Regions from separate parts of the Homo sapiens genome. Here region 1 is linked to region 2. A link means that fine-mapping ties the variant in region 2 to the plasma level of a protein whose gene starts in the linked region. Region 2 holds a variant in brackets. A gene starts in the other region. All regions are shown on their forward strands.

Region 1 (8,330 bases), not on the chromosome of region 2:
ACCACTCAGAGAAAGAATTCTTGAACTCCTTCGTGTGACTTTCACAGTGAATTCGCCCCCAGGCTTCTAACACCGTTCATTTCCATGTACGTTGTGTGCTGCACACCCCTCCTAGCACACTGCTTACGAACTGCTGCTCCGCCTTGCTTATCTACACAGGAGTAAACGTGATGGACACACAACTCTTGCTGCCTCTCACAAATATGCCGGCGTATGGGAGGGTCTGAGCTGGAGGGAGGCGCACCTTGGATTGGTGTGAATCAGGCATCAGGAACTCCTGTGCTCACAGCTTGTCCAGCTCTCCCTCAGCATTTGGGCCACTCCACAGAATTCTTTGTTCAGGCCCGATCTGTCCTCCTGGGACATCTGAGCTGCTCAGCACCAGGAAACATGCTCTGTTGTGCGCAGGGCATCAGCTTTGCAAATAATCCAGTTACGTTCCCATTGGTAGCTGGCGTCACACTTTATGTCCTTGTAAAATTTTGAGTGGAGCCTAATCACAATGTAAGGTCTCATTTTTAATGTTTAATTAGCATCCTCCCAGTAAAGTCTGAAATATTTTACCAAAGCGTAACAATGTTTTTCATTCTTTAAGTAAAGTACACATGCATGTGGCCCAAAACTATGACTTGAATGTTGAATGTGAGGCTGCCTGCCGGGCACTCCCCACCCAAGCATAGAAAAAAGAAAATCGGGCCGGGCGCGGTGGCTCACACCTGTAATCCCAGCACTTTGGGAGGCTGAGGTGGGCGGATCACGAGGTCAGGAGTTCGAGACCAGCCTGGCCAACATGGTGAAACTCCGCCTCTACTAAAAATACAAAAAAATTAGCCGGGTGTGGTGGCGGGTGCCTGTAATCCTGGCTACTCAGGAGGCTGAGGCAGGAGAATTGCTTGAACCTGGGAGCTCAGTGAGGTTGTGGTGGGCTGAGATCGTGCCACTGCCCTCTAGCCTGGGCAACAGAATGAGACTCCATCTCAAAATAAATAAATAAATACAATAAAATCTTGGGTTCCTTGAAGGGGAATTCCAGCCACCTAGCTAGCCCTGAGAAATACATGAGCAACTTGGGAAGCAAGAAGTTAATAGTGGCGAGAAACAATAGTCAAGAGAGTTAGAGTCAGGAATTCATTGCTTCCCTGTAGAAACTAAAGACAACATCGTAACAAACGACCCGGAGTTGTTTTTCAGAACCTGGACCCCCACCAAATGGATCTGTTGACTTACAGACCTCTGATATGGGGGAGCGGAGAGCTGAACTCCACCACCGTTCTTTGTTCTTTGTTTTTTGAGACAGAGTCTCACTCTGTTGCCCAGGCTGGAGTGCAGTGGCTCAATCTCAGCTCACTGCAACCTCCGCCTCCTGGGTTCAAGCGATTCTCTTGCCTCAGCCTCCCAAGTATCCTCCTGAGTACAGGTATGCACCACCACACCCGGCTAATTTTTGTATTTTTAGTAGAGACGGGGTTTCGCCATGTTGGCCAGGCTGGTCTCGAACCCCTGACCTCAGGTGATCCACCTGCCTCAGCCTCCCAAAGTGTTGGGATCCACCCCTCCGGGCCCACCACTGTTCTTTGTTCTAAATTTCTTCCTGAGGGGCCTGGAGGAGGTCATGCCCACAGGCCAGAGCTAACATTCTTTTTTGCTGATCTCAAATTTTTTGACAAAGCCTTGCCTTCTTAACCAATCACAAATCAGAAAACCTCTGAATCTACTACCTATATGACCTGTGGGCCCCCAGTTCAAGATGTCCTAGCTTTTTAGGTCAAACCAATGTGCAGCCTCCAGGTATTATTCATGTGGGACTTAGCCTGTAACCTCTGCCTCTCCACCTTGAAAAACCCTCCCCCATCAGCCATCGGGGAGTTCAGGTCTGAAGTGTGAGCTGCCAGGTTCTGCTCGCCTGGTGCCCTGCTCTAAATGCCTCACTTCCTCTCACTGCAATCCCGACGTCCATGTTTGGCTTTGCTGCGGGAGGGCAGAGCCAGGCTGGGTTTGGTGACAAACGCTGAGTGCTCACCAAGTACCAAGCCCTGTTCTCGGGGCTGGGGTGCAGAGCGAACAGGCAGAAAGAAGGTCTCTGCTCTCATGGGGCCTACGCCTCGGTGGGGAGAGACTGACAATAAATGAAATAAACGTCTAAGATATGAAGTACATTGGATCGTGGTTAGTGGGATCGAGAAAATACAGCAGGGGAGGGCTTTAGGGGGAGGGAGACCTGCTGTCAAGGTGATGTTTGGGTGCCGAACACCCCGACGTTTGGGTGATGGAATGAGATGCTCAGAGACATCAGAGTTGCTTGGTTCCAGGCCCATGGACCACTCAAGGCCCTGTCTCAAATCTCCAGGCTTCAGGACACGCTGCTTTACATGGAGGCGGGCTCTTCATCTGGGCCTCTGAACAAGGCCTGAGACAGGACGCAGGCAAATAGCATGAGGCACGAGACTGTAGTCCGGGATGGAGAGTCAGAGTGAGTCTGAGGATGAGTGCAGATGCCTGCAGGGCAAGCTCTGCTGAATTGCTTTGCTATCTAGTTTTTATTACAGTCATTGAATCGGGGTGTCTCCCATTATCTGATGACAATTTTATGATGAAAAGAAACCATGCTGGCTTTGTTCGGTCATGGAGATGGGAAAGGTCCGCATATTCAGCAATCTGTTGAATTCTTCCAGGTTAAAACTGGAGCTGAGAAAAACCTGCAGCTGCCTGTCCCTCCCTTCACCTCTTCCAGCGAGAGGCAGTGGGGGACTGGAGAGCTGATGAAATGGCAGAGATAAAGGTTGTAAATTAGTTTTCCCTGAAGCCGACCAGCCTGAGCAACAGGATAAAGGTCGTTATTACAGACAGCCCCCGGCCTTTGGAGTTCACAGTTTCTCCATTGCTAGGAGATGGAACTCTCTGGAACCCTTCTCCAGCTCCACAGAGAGGCTCAGGCTATCAGAGGATCTGAGCGGTTGTAGGCTGCAGGCACAAGTTAAAAATAATCACCTAACGTTTTGACAGCACTTTCTTTTTTTCTGTCCCACAGAGATTGGAAGTCATTTTCTTATCCTCTTTAGGAAGTATGTTGGATTCAGGATTCTTAATTCCCATTTAAAGTCAGGACAATTGAGATAACTGTATCAGCTAACATTTACTGGGTGTTATGTTATACTTGCTAATAATAATCATAGCTAACATTTACTGAGTGATAATTTTTCTTAATAGAAAATAGCAGCATTTACTGAGTGCCACATATTTTCCAAGTACTGCCTGAAGAGCCTTGGATCTGTCCTCTAATTTATTGTTACAGCCCTGAGGAGGAGGAACTATTAACCCCCATTTTGTGGATGAGGAATTCGAAAACTAAGAGAGATCAAGTAATTTGCCTAGGAGCACAGCTGGTGAATGTTGGAGAAAGTATGAAGCGGTAAATATTACTTAAATCACATAGCAAATATAGCTGTGACTGCAATTCTAGGGTGTGTGTCTCTGTGTGTCCACGTGTATTTGGAGTAGATCGGATAAACTTTGGTCTTGGGTAAACTGAGGCATGTCTGGCGAAGGGGCTGACTCTTTTCTATCCCATTGAGAACATCCTCCTGGTGCTGGGGTGGGGGTATATGTGGGATGGTGTAATTGCGCAGCGTACCTTGTAATTAATTCCGTAGCTTTCACTGACGTCCGAAAGGATTAGAGAGAAAAATGTGGTCAGCGCTTAATATGGAGGGCACAGTGGGTGTGCTGCTTTCTCTTTTCCATCCCTCTGTCAACTTCATTCTCTTTTGGGGGCAAACAAGACTCAGATCTAAACAGAGTTTATGGTTTGTTTTGCATTTTGTATTTATTAATATTTATGCCGACTTTGAAGGTGCTGACCAGAAGGCATCAGTAACACACACACGCACACGCACACACACCACACACCATGTCTGTTTGGTTTGATTCTGAGCCTGAGATCCTGGAAATATTTCAGCTGTTGTTAAGAGGCTGGAGTTAGGACCCAGGAAGGACACAGCAGTGGGGATATAAATAGAAAAGGAGAACAGAACAAAGTTTGAGGAGAGAGACTTACATCACTCACTCCCCCTCCACCCAGAGAGCAGGACGGAGGTGTGAACTTGAGCCAGACCAGAAGGAGCTCGAGAGCGGCCGCAGGACAAGCCCGAGGAGCAGGCGGGCGCTCCAGGGGAAAACCACGCACAAAACCTTCTTCAGAGAAAAGGGAAGCTCCAAACCTGACTGAGACAAACGGAGGCTCTTGAAATAAAAAGAAAATACCGCAGGACAAACAGCCTCCCGTCCCCGGGCGCAGGTCGCGGTCACAGTGGTGACCTGGGATTGCTTTCCCAGGACTGCGAGTCGGGTTTGGGTTTCTCCTCCCTGCATTCCACAGCTGCTCTGGTCATCGCAACGTGTTTATTGATCACTGAAGAATCTCAAGTTTTGAGACGAGGAAGAAACACCCATTAGGTCTCCAAGACAGCTGTGTTTCACAAACTTTAAGGAGACAGAAATTTTCTCCCCTGGAACCTGTGAAAATGTCCCTTTTCCAAGGAAGTGAAGGTTAAGAGGTCCCGTTCTCACAGACCCTCAGGAATTTCACTTGGCTCCGAGCTTTGACCTCCGAGAGAGCCATGGAAAAGCTGCTGCGGCTGTGCTGCTGGTACTCCTGGCTGCTGCTATTTTATTACAACTTTCAGGTAATGTCCCCAAGTGGCCAGGATGGCGACAGGCTTGGTTTCTCCGGAGGCTTTCCCTGAGTGTGTCTCACACTGTGGTCTTTTGTGCGCAGGTGCGTGGCGTCTACTCCAGATCGCAGGACCATCCAGGTAAGAGTGTTTCCTTCTCACTCTGAGCACCGCTCTCCCCCTGCCTAGTGCAGGTATCTCAGGAACAGCCCACTTGTTCATCTCTGAGGCATCAGCGAATGGCCCTTGTTGGGCTCCTGGTCCCCGACCTCACTGCCTCACCACACACTGTGACCCTGGGCAGCTCTGCTACCCCTCACCGGCTGAGCGGTGGATGGAGAAGTGGTTCTGGGCCCCTTGAGCTGGGTCATATGAAACATTGTGATTAAGGAAATATGATCTTCATTTGAATGCCTTCTGCCTCTTTCTTTCTCTCTTTCTCTCTTTCTTCCTTTCTTCCTTTTTTTCTTTTTGAGATGGAGTCTTGCTCTGTTGCCCAGGCTGGAGTGCAGTGGCCGCAACCTCTGCCTCCCGGGTTCAAGCAATTCTCCTGCCTCAGCCACCTGAGTAGCTGGGATCACAGGTGTGCACCACTACACCCAGCTTTTTTTTTTTTTGTATTTTTAGTAGAGACAGGGTTTCACTATGTTGGCCAGGCTGGTCTCGAACTCCTGATTTCAGGTGATCCGCCCGCCTTGGCCTCCCAGAGTGCTGGGATTACAGATGTGAGCCACCACACCCATCTCATGTCTTCAGGGCAGATTCACTGGTGGGGAGTTGGAGCTCTGGCCCATAGCAGGGTCTCGGGACCTCCAGCCTCAGAGTGCTGACCAGCTTAGCCTGGAGCAGCCGATGAGTGGGACTCGGGATAGAGGGCCACCCTTGCTCCAGCCCCAGAGCCACATTCCATTGGCCATTGTGACACCCAACCAGGAAGCATCAGGACGGGGCTTCTCTCGGGAAGACAGGGAGGCACACACCCTTCGCTGTTAAGAGTGTGGGCACACGTTCTGGTCAGCCAGGGGCAGGGATGGGAAGACGAGGCTTTCTGGGAGCAGCAGGCAGTCACTGGGCTGTTGCTCCCTGCTGGAAGTTGCAGGAGGTGGGGAGGAGACCCTGCTAGTGCCTGAACCCCTGCTGGGAAGCCTGTTGTGAGCACAGCCTCTGCCCCCGCCCCACCAGAGCTTGGCTGGGCACCCCCCCGAGCGCTATTGTATGGCCCTGCCTGTCTCTGATGGGAAATCAGCCTTTTTAAAAAAATTATTTTTGTTTTTATTTTTTGAGACAAAGTCTCACTCTGTCACCCAGGCTGGAGTTGAGTGGTGAGATCTCAGTCTCGGCTCTCTGCTACCTCTGCCTCCCGGGTTCAAGCGATTCTTGTGCCTCAGCCTTCCAAGCAGCTGGGATTACAGGCCCATGCCACCACGCCTGGCTAATTTTTGTATTTTTAGTAGACACAAGGTTTTGCCATGTTGGCCAGGCTGGTCTCGATCTCCTGACCTCGGGTGATCCAACCACCTCGGCCTCCCAAAGTGTTGGGATTACAGATGTGAGCCACTGGGCCTGGCTGGGAACCAGCCTTTAATGATCAACCACAAATGGACTCAGGCCAGCACTGTGGGCAGATCCCAGGGCGATACCCAGGCCTCCAGGGAGAGCCCCTTTCCTGGATGGAGCACCAGGAGCCTGCTGGGGTCTAGGGCCAGGGGCTGTGCCCTCAGCCTCTGTCTCCTTTCCGGCTGCCCGGCAGCCCCATGCCAGGATGTTCCAGGCATCGTCGCCTCGCCACCACCTCCATTCACCAACTCGGGGGTGGGGACGCTGCCACTTCTGTTTCGTCCACATGCATAGGGAGCTCCTTTTAAAAAGGTGTGGAAGCTGTGAGTTTCCACACATTCCCCTCTCCTCAGCCAAATCGCTGAATGAAACAAGGGCTCCTGTGGCTTGGGAACGAATAAACATGCCCAGCGCTGCGTTAAAGAGAGGACGTGTCCACCTTGGACACCTTGCTTCTCGTGAATGCAGGCCTCATGGCTTGGGCTGGGCTCCAGTAGGGGAGAGGACTGAGAGGAGGAGAGGGGTAGCCCCTCGAACTGCAGGGCGGTCAGGCAGAGCTGTGCACCCGGCTCCTGCAGCAGGCAGGTGGCCCCCGAGGCCCCAGCATGGCCCTCACTGCTGCTCAGTGTTGGAGAAAAGCTGTGCGGGTTCTCCCCGGACTTCTGCTTATGATACAGAGCCCACACGCATTCTCACACATGCACATGTGTCCACATGCCCCCCCATGCTACATGTCTACATGTGTCAACATATGCCCACATGCACCAACACAAATCACACACATCCACACATGGTGACACATATGCATACACACACACACCAGATGTCTACATGTGTCAACATATGGCCACATGTGCCAACACACATCACATGTCCACACACCACTCACATCCATACACATCAGACATGTTGACACACATGCATACACATGCAAAAGCATCCACACATATGCACACACCTGCATGCATCAACATGTGTCCACATGCATCCACACATGTGTCCACACAATTCACATGTGTAGACACACATGCACATATATACACATCCATGCACACACCCACACCCACATGTGCCAACACATGTCTACGTGCATCAACATACATGTATTTACACATGTTCACACATGTCCACACATATCCACGTGTCTACACACATGACCACACAGTCACAGACTACACACATCCACATGCATCCACACACATCCATACATTTCTACACACATGCATACACGTACACACATTCACAAAAGTCCACGTGTCTACACACATCTGCACATGCTCGCACATCTCTACACACATGCACATACATACACACATGCTCACACACGTACACCCCACACACGTCCACACACACTCATATGCATGCACGTGTCCACACACATCTTCACATACTCACATGTGTGCACACACATGCACACACACCCTCACACATTCACACACATCCCACATCCACACACATGTACACCTATTTACACAGCTCACATATCCACACACGTACACATATGTACACACACATGCACATGTGCACTTGCATTTTTGTATCTAAACTTGAAGGAGCAGTTTGAACTCAGTCTTTGTTCCATATAGAAGCTTTGTTCTTCCAAGTCTGGATTTAGGGTAGAAATCAACATTTCCTGATCAAGGCACTGTCTTAGAGAAACGACGGCCATGCTGATGACAGTAGAAAGGGACGGAAGGGTGTGGTGACCCCTAGTCTGTGTGGAAAAGCACAGTGAAGGCGGCCATGCCTCCTGAGCTCTTGAAACCGCAAGGTTTCTCTCTCCTCAGCTTTCCAGGTTCTAGCAGTCCCTCTTTTTCTCCTCGTCCTTCCTCGTCCTCCTCTCACTGCAAATTGTTTTTGAACTTTTCCTTTTTTCTCTTCCTTCCTCCTTCCTTCCTTTTTAGAATAATGGTGAAGGTGGACACATTTGCTGAATATTTAGGTGCCCTCCATGAACAACACATCCTGCTGCCTGCCTTCCTTCCCTTCCTCCTCACTGTTCCCCTCCTCCCCTTCTCCCCTTCTCCTGCCTTCTCTCTCACTTTGTTTCCTGTCTCATTTTCTTTTTTCCATTTCCCTCCCTCATTTCCTTCCCTCCCTCCC
Region 2 (8,330 bases):
GGGGAGTCCGTGGCTGTTCCCTGGGGTGCATGGCTGAGACTCTCTACCATGGTTTGTAGAACAACACAGGCCAATCTCCTCTTTCCATGCTGGTCGGCCCAAGATTTGAACATTGAGCTCAGTGCACAAGAAATACTCAATCCCGCTCAATCACGGGGCCCATCCTGTACCATGAACATCAAACCAGAGGGAACCAGGGAGCAGGGTCCCATGCAGGGAGCTGGCCACATTCCCTTCCCAAAGGGTGGCAGCCCATTGATATTGACTTGCCTTTGTTCCACCTCTGTTGAGGAGGAAAATCCTTGTAAAACCTGACTACTGTGTGACTGGTATACGTATTTCATCCTTTTAAGAAAAAGTCTAAGGCTCCTGGGTTGAAAGCAGCCTAGTCATTTACGTGTCGTAGCTAGATGCATTTTAAGTGCATTTAAACATTATCTTGAATTTGCTACATGTAAACCTCAAATAACTCTAGTGGGTGGCAATTAATTAAACATCGGTATCCATCCCTTCCCTTCCTCGGTCTTCCCTCTCTGTGGCCTTTCCTCATGAGAAATCAGAATGTGCAGAACACAAGGCCTGCGGGTGCCTGGTCTATCTTCATGGCTGCTTTGCCAATGGCCGTGTGGCTCCGCACACCAAGAAGCTGCCACGGGCTGTCAGAGTCAAGGCTTCTGGGACTTCCTTCACTCCATGATGGCCTGAGAGAAGGTAGTGGGATCCCATCTCTCTCTGTTTGTCTCTTTTGAGGACTGGCTACTGTGCGGGTGGAGGATGGTTAGGGATTTTGCTGACAAGCCAAGGGTGCCTGTGTAAGCAGAGCCTTGACAGCCCCCGGAAGCTCTTGAGGGTGACCGTGCAGGCCACGGGTGTGAGAGGGGAAGCCTGGTACTTGGACAAAACGTCCAGACATTTTCAGGCTGTTTTTCAAGAGAAGTGAGTATCAAGAAAGGCAAGAATGGTCTCGCGAAGCTCTGTGAGGAGCATTTATTGATTTCCTTTCATCCCAGAAGTGGTGTTGGCTTGGGGGTTCTCCCAAGGTCTGTTAGCAAAGCATTTGGAACAAGAAAGCACCAAGACACCCCTAAGTGTCTGAAGTGCACACATGGGAGAGCTTCCAGAGGGAGTTTCAGAGTGAGCTGAAGGAGAAAAGTATCCTAAGCTCCTGAGGGTGTGGATAAAAGGCCCAAACTATTAAAAAAAACTAAATTCCTAAATTCCCTGCTATTTTATGAACAAGAAACTCTAACAGGTGATGCATTCAGAATTTGGGGTTCCAGTGGTGGAGATGGATTGCCATCCATCCATGCTCCTCCTGCTCTTGGGGTGACACCATAGCCCCACAAGATGTGGCTAAGTTTGGGGAATAATATGACCCATGTGTTGGCTCTCAGATTACTTAAGATTGGAACCCAGGAATCTGGTCTCAACAGCCCAGTGGTCTCATCAAACAGAACTAACTAACTGATCAACCAATATGCCTTGCAATTTGATAGCCATTCTCTGACTATCATATGCCTAAAGTATTTGATTTCTCTAAGAGAAGATCTACGTGAATGTTTTATCTGCTATATACTGCAAGCTATAAAACTAAATGAAGGGCCAGTTCAATAGCATTCCTGTGTTGCTGGGAAAGATGTGTAAGAACATGACCCATGTCATGGGGCTAATAATGGAAACAGGGGAGTGAAGCTGGGCAGCTCACGGACCAAAGACGTGAGGCCAATTACCATTTAGGATTAATTGATGGCAAAAAGAAATAATGTTGATCCAGGTGATTGGATAACTCATTCAGCTGGAGGCTTGTCAAGACTGAATCTGAATTCAGAATTTCTCCCCAGAACATGCCAATGTCCTTTCTTTTCTTGGTAGAAGAGAAACACTTGGAAAAAACAAATTGTTCTTTCCAAGTCTTATGTTGTGCCATGACATAGAGGGATTATCTGTTAAGACCACATATGCCCCCTTTTCCATGAGATCCTAAGGAGACATTTAATATGGTTCATGGAAGCTTTTAGGGCCATGTTAGTTTGGGTGACGAAGGGGCCTGGTACTCCCCAGTCAATAGAGGAAGTGCTGTATGAGCTTCTCTTTCCAATGCAAGCTTCATTCCAGGTTACTCAGGACTTGGATATACAAAGCAAATGTCTGGGGACACTGGGCCAAGCATCCTGTCATTTTGCAGACTGAAACCACAAACCCTGCTTATTTGATAAGGCCCAGGTTCTGAACTAAACATGACTGAAGTCCACGACAGGGCGCAACTAGCCTACCATGTACGTTCATCCAAAATGGAAAACAAGACTCCCTCTGGTGGGCCCAGCCTCACAGATGCCCAGCTGACCAGGCAAAACACAGGCTGGGTTTCAGCCCCTATTGATCCTCAGCTGCCCTGGTGCAGTGAATAACCCACGCCACTGTACATGGCCACCCTTGTCCGAGGAGCCTGTTTCAGAAAGAGCTGTAACACACAGCAGCTTCTCCAGGGCCCCCAATACATGGCCTCAGGTCATGTGATTTGGAGCCTGTCTCTGCCTAATCCTGCTCATGGGGAAGCTTCCTTTCACAGTGGCTGTAACATATGAAAACCACAGTAGGAGAAATCTGGCTAGTCACTGTGGGTTGCCTTTGCTTCACCTTCCAGCTGTTCTTCAGATTCTTTGGTGGGAAGTCTCAGGCATTACTGACCAGGGAGAGGAGGTGCCTTCTCTCACTGAAGACTCTTTCCTGTTGCTTGGTGATGTCTAGCCTGCCACTCTCTGCTATCTTCCTGGTTTTGCAGTTGACAGAGGACAATAGGAGCATGAAGGTGGCCAGAGCTGAAATGCTCACCCTCCCACTGCTTCTTGAGACAGAGTCTCACTCTCCGAGCCTGGAGTGCAGTGGCACAATCTTGGCTCACTGCAACCTCTGCCTCCTAGGTTCAAGCGATTCTCCTGCCTCAGCCTCCCGAGTAGCTGGGATTACAGGCACACGCCACCACACCCGGCTAATTTTTGTACTTTTAGTAGAGATGGGGTTTCACCATATTGGCCAGGCTGTTCTCAAACTCCTGACCTCAAGTGATCCACCTGCCTCCCAAAGTGCTGGGATTACAGGCATGAGCCACCACACCCCGCCCTCTGCTCTCTCTTAAGTGTGCTTGTTGCTTCAGCTTCCACAGAGTCTACCACAGTGGGGTGGGGGGCCTCACCAAAGAGGGCCTGGCTCTGACATAGAGGACCAGGAGCATGCGTGGGAGGGAGAGGGGGCAAGAGGAATCGGGGCCAAGCCACAGCAGCAGCTCCCTTGTTGAGATAGATACTGGCTGAAGCCATCTGGTGAGAGCTCCAATCTGGGGAGGAGAAGCTGGAGAAAGTCCTTTGCTCCTCTGTCCAGTTCCACAGAAAAAGCCGCAGAGGGTGATAGCACTGAAGTTAGGAGAAAATGGCAGCCCCGAGTGAGGCTGGTGTCAGCCTCCCTGGGTACCTTTGGAGGCTCAGTTGAAACCTTACCTGCCCTCTTGAGAGCTTCATCAGCTCCAGCCTTGGGCTCCAAAGATAGATAGATAGAAAATGGGGTTGCTGGTGCCAGAGCAAGCACTGGAGGCCACGGAGGAGAAGGGAGAGGAGGACCAGGCGTTCATCCACCTCCTAAGAGAGCATCGAAGTTTAGCTTTGCCAAGGTGCTCCTTGGAATTGCGGCAGGAAGGGCCGGAAGCTGCAGAAGGCTTGGCATGTGATGGGTGGCATCTCTGCGACAGGCTTTCCTGTCCTGCCTGCCTGCCAAGGAATGCAGCAGGCAAGTCAGATGGGGAGCGGGAAGCTCTGGGAGCCAGCTGCCACTCAGCCTCCCTCGCCCCCTCCTTCCATCCCCCTGTTCCTTCCCCTGCCAAAAGCCAAGGAAGAGCTAATGAGAGCCAAGAAGTCAACAGCTCACTCATCCCCCTCCAGGCAGCTCTGCAGAGAGAAACTCCCAGCTCCAGGCCCAGGTGCTGACCGGAAGTGGAGGGCTAAGGCTCTCCGCAGGGGAGGGGGCAGGCAGGCAATCAGGGCAGTCAGCCAACCGGCAGAAGCAGCTCCTGCCCCCAGGAAGGCGGTGTTGTTTTCCCCTCCTCCTCAAGGTTTCATGGGGAACAGCCTTGCACCCTGGTGGAATGAGTTCCCAAATACCTAGACTCAGCAGAATCCCCAGAGGGCTTTGACCTCAGTTGAAATGATCTTTCTGTGCCTCTGGCAAGGGCCAATTGGCTAAAAATCTTTCCAAAGGGTTAGTTTTTATTGCAAAC[A/G]GTCCTTGGACTCCTTTGGGACCACTGGGTCACAAACATTAGTGCCAGCCTCTCCCATCTCAGAGCACTGAGATCCAGCTGCAGTGAAACCCTGGCCCTGGCTGGAGCTGGAGGGAGACTTCCATCGAAGTGTTTGGGAAGGAAAGCAGGGAAACCTGCCTCTCTGGAGCAGCAAGTGCATGTCCTGGGACTCTGAGACACCTCAGCAGCCCTCCTGCAGACTGGCTCCTGCTTCCAGCCTCAGCTTGCTAGCTATGTGACCTCAAGCAAATCACTAGCCCTCTCTGAGCCCTGGTTTTCTCCTCTGAAATGACTTGGACTAGGTCGTCTCGATGGTCCCTTCCAGCTAGCGGTGTTCTGCAGGTCTGTGCTTCCCTCTGTCCTGAGATTTCTGAGTTATATAACTCATTCCTTAGAATGGGAGAGGAGCTGTCTTCTTGCCCAGTTAGTTACCTGATTCAGAAGTGCCTGCCAGCCTGTGAGGCTGGGAAATAAACTGTGGATAGACTTGAGTTGGGTGTATTTACAAAGCCTGGACATGCACTGGCAGGAGAACTGAGTGCCCCAGGCTCCCCACACCTACACCACAGGCCCTGCTCAGTTGTTCAGGGTTCACTCGTCCACGGTGAGTCGCCGGAGGGTCAGGGAGGACTCACAGAGAACAGGGTGAGTGCCCTACACCCTTCAGCTTGCCAGTTCTGCAGTCCCCACCCTTCCGGTCTGGATGCCCAGCTGTGTGTGTGTGTGTCAGGTGGGGTCAGCTGGGCAGAAAGGTGGACCCCAGGGTCGGTGTTGCCGCATCACTGCATGCACTGTGGGGTCCCAGGGGCCCTATGGGTATAGGAAGGAATGAAATGTGAGCACTTGGGAATCTCAGCACACTCTGCTGCTCACCTGCTACCAGGCTTTCTGGTTCCCCAGGGAACCCTGGGCCAGCTTGTTGCTGTCCTCTTTTAGCGATGGGAAATAAGAGTATGAGAGACAGTGTTATCCTGTTTACAATCAGTGGTGAAGTCCGTGGTTAAGACCAGGTTACAACTCCTCTATGCTTCGCTTCTTATCTTGACTCTGTGTGAAATTAGGAAAAGCATATTTACTGTTATAGTTTTGTAGCTGGAAAATGAAAATATAAAAGTCTATTTTTTATAAACTACAAAATGTAAAACAACAGACTCAGTATGGCTGGTGGGTACAGAGAAGACAAAGTGGCTCCTCACGGGGTTGACAGGAGTCTCGAGACTTTTATCAAAAAAGGCCAGAAGTTGGTTGTCATTTTTGAGACACTGGGCCCTAGACCCTGACGTTTCCGTTGGAAGGAGGAGCCCCCAGCTGTTCCCGCTGATGGTTCAACCTGTCCGCCAAAAGCAGCCAAAATGCTCTCCCCACGGAGTGCCCACTTGGAGAAAAACCCCACTGGTGACTCACCTTCTGGACATGTGGGGCAATCAGGGCCCGGTGGAGGCAGCTGCTCCTGGCTTTCCCTGGTGGGCCCTCCCTCGACCCCCGCCCAGGCCCTCTCCTGCCTTCCCCAGACCCCAATGTGCCAAGCAGTCAAGTGAAAATCAAATCCTCTGAGGCAGAAAGACACAGCTGTGTGTTTACAGCCACTGATTCAGATCCAAATCGCGTACCCTGCCAGTCTCTAGCAAGGCAGGCTGGGGGCAAAGTGTGTGTATGCCAAGCAGGGATCTATTTCGGGAGGTGACCTGCAGGCCTTCGCCATGACAGTGCCTTCCTCCCACCCACTCTCAGGAAAGGTGCTCTCACTTTACAAGCGGCTGATGGGGTTGTGGGGTCTCGGCATGCTTGTCACTTGTGCAGTCAGACCCCAGTGCCATCCTCGTGCAGCCACATGGGAACTGTGTGGGCTCCCACCTGCCTAGTAAGAAGGCAGAGAGTGAAGGGGAGTGCAGGGCCCCCCGCAGGATAAACAGCGGGAAGGCCGACCACTCAGAAGACAGGATGCCCGCCTCTGCCTAGGACAGAGCCTGCCTCAGTCCTGTCCGGGGAGCAGCAGCACCGCAGCAGAGGGGGCCAGAGAAAGAGCATCCAATGGCAGGAGTCTGGCAAGGCGACAGCACTGCCAATGTCACGGTCAAGGAGAGGAGACCCAACTCTGCCTGTGGTCCAGACTGGAAAGTTCAAAGAGAAGTCAGAGAGCTTCAAGTCTGAGGACTTCAAAGGCTAAGAAGTAAGACCCCCCCCCGACCCATGGAAGTCCCCCCAAAATGAGCTCCTGGTGGAAACAACAGGGGATGCTTCCCCCTTTTAAAATAGTGATGAGTGTCCCTGGTTTGAGTTGAGTTAGGAAAGCATGACATTTTGGAAGGAGGCCAGGATACCTGTCCATAGGTAGGAATAGCCTGTAAGATGTTGCCCTCCTGCAGTGTGGCTAAATGGGACACTGCCGGGGGTGGGACTCAGAGCAGTGGGATTTTTAGTTTTGTCATGTTTGCCCAAAGGTGGATGAGAGAAAGACCCTTGGGTGTTTGCTTAGTGGCTTCCCAATGGGTGGGAAGGTGAGACGGGGTTGGAAGCATGGAGCCACCCCAGCAGTGGCAGGGCCACAGGGCAGCGGTTCTTCCATGCCCCCTAATCATGGCCACATTGTATCAGCCTGAGCATGAGCAACAGCACCATGGCCACATACGGGAATGGGCCTCATTGGTGTAATATTTGGCAGATTCTCTCCACACCCCCCGTGGCGGTCTGGCTTACTGTTAAGAAGGGTAACCTTAAAAAATACATTTCCCACTCCAGAAAATACTCATATGTGGCCTGTTAGCAGCACAAGAAGGGTGAAAGCAATGCCCATTCCTGCCTCCCTCCCCCTGCTCACCTCCACGTCCCTGTTTGCCCCTTTGTAGGTGAAGTGAGTATATTCAGCGTCTTCATGGCAGGGGAGAGGGTGTATTAATCCGTCTATGTCCGCTGGAAAGGCAGTCTCTGAGCGGGCCACAAGGGTTCAGCCATGGCCCATCCAATAACCTTTTTGATGACTTGGATGAAGAGACAAACATTCCAACCACATTCAAAGATCCAGACCTCCAAAGTGTGGCTCATTTGGTAGATAATGGAATTATATTTGGAAAGCATTTCCCGCAGCTGGGATGATGGGTCAAAAACAGATAGCATTTTACCAGATCATATTTGTGTGTGTGTGTGTGCGCGCGTGTGTGTGTGTGTGTGTGTGTGTTTTAAATTCAGTTTCCCAACTACAGGATGGCATTTGTAGCCTTTCCTAAAAATCAAGTTTAAAAAAAAAAAATTTCTTGGGTTGTAATTGACGATAAGCTTAGTGTAAGCAAATGCAGAATGCAGCTGCTTTCCAAAGGGCAGCTTTAGGCTATATAACAAAAGTGGGAAAGGAAAAGTGTTCCATTGCTTTTTGTTGCTCTAAGCAATATTAAGTCTTGGTTCTAAGCCCCCACATTATCAGGAACTTTAACATCTAGAGACAATTGAGAGAGAAGAGCTAGAGAGAGAAAGTGACCCTGGAAGCCACGTCGGAAGAGGCTGGAGTAAAAATGTCTAGCCCCCCAGCAGACTTGATGGCCACCGTGAGCTCTTTGCATTTGTCTTCAAGAGTGGACACTTCCGGGTTGCTCCAGAGAGCAAGGCTAGAACAAATGGCTAGAAGATAGATAGGTAGATACTAAAAATATTCTAACAATAACAGAATATTCCAACAATAGACTATGTCCCCTCAAAGGGCAACGAGCTCCATGTCTAGCCGTTTAGAAGCTGAATGGCCAAGGATAGTGCAGAGTAGGTTTCTACACCAGATCCCATGATCTTTTGCAACTGGAATTCTATGCTGCCCCAAATACTTGTTAAATGGATCCGACTGCATTTCATTCTGTGGTTTATAAATAAGTCCTGGAAAAGGAGAATGAATTATAAGGAAGGAGTTTGCTGAGATTGGAGGAGAGGGATCTGAAAGACTCAGGACTAGACTCCGCCTTGAGGGAGAAAAAGCCACAAGATGACACACTCAAAGCAAGGGAAACCGTCAGGAAGTGGAATTACTGCCCTTCACATGTCATCCTTGCCTTCTTTTCTG

Which allele goes with the higher level. Alleles are on the strand shown, and positions count from the first base shown. The strength of an association depends on the size of the effect and on how common the allele is.
In carriers of allele G in region 2, the plasma level of the protein whose gene starts at base 4,058 in region 1 tends to be higher than with A alone (weak association).

What was found. PIP is the posterior inclusion probability: the model's chance that the variant is causal. The UK Biobank Pharma Proteomics Project read protein levels with antibody pairs (Olink). The fine-mapping took linkage between variants from a reference panel, not from the people measured, so its PIPs are less certain.
Region 1: ADGRD1 starts here. The variant in region 2 is fine-mapped to the plasma level of the ADGRD1 protein (UK Biobank, PIP above 0.99).

What each region holds. Positions count from the first base shown.
Region 1 is chr12:130,949,850-130,958,179 of GRCh38, forward strand. ADGRD1 (adhesion G protein-coupled receptor D1) reads left to right here and starts at 4,058. Exons shown (of 25, transcript NM_198827.5): 1 at 4,058-4,682; 2 at 4,775-4,811. The coding sequence starts at 4,617.
Region 2 is chr14:72,540,910-72,549,239 of GRCh38, forward strand. The region is part of intron 17 of RGS6 (regulator of G protein signaling 6); the gene reads left to right. Among named protein-coding and RNA genes, the nearest start is that of MIR7843, 28 kb to the left of the region's middle. RefSeq lists an enhancer at 3,912-4,690. The variant A/G (reference allele first, on the strand shown) is at 4,268.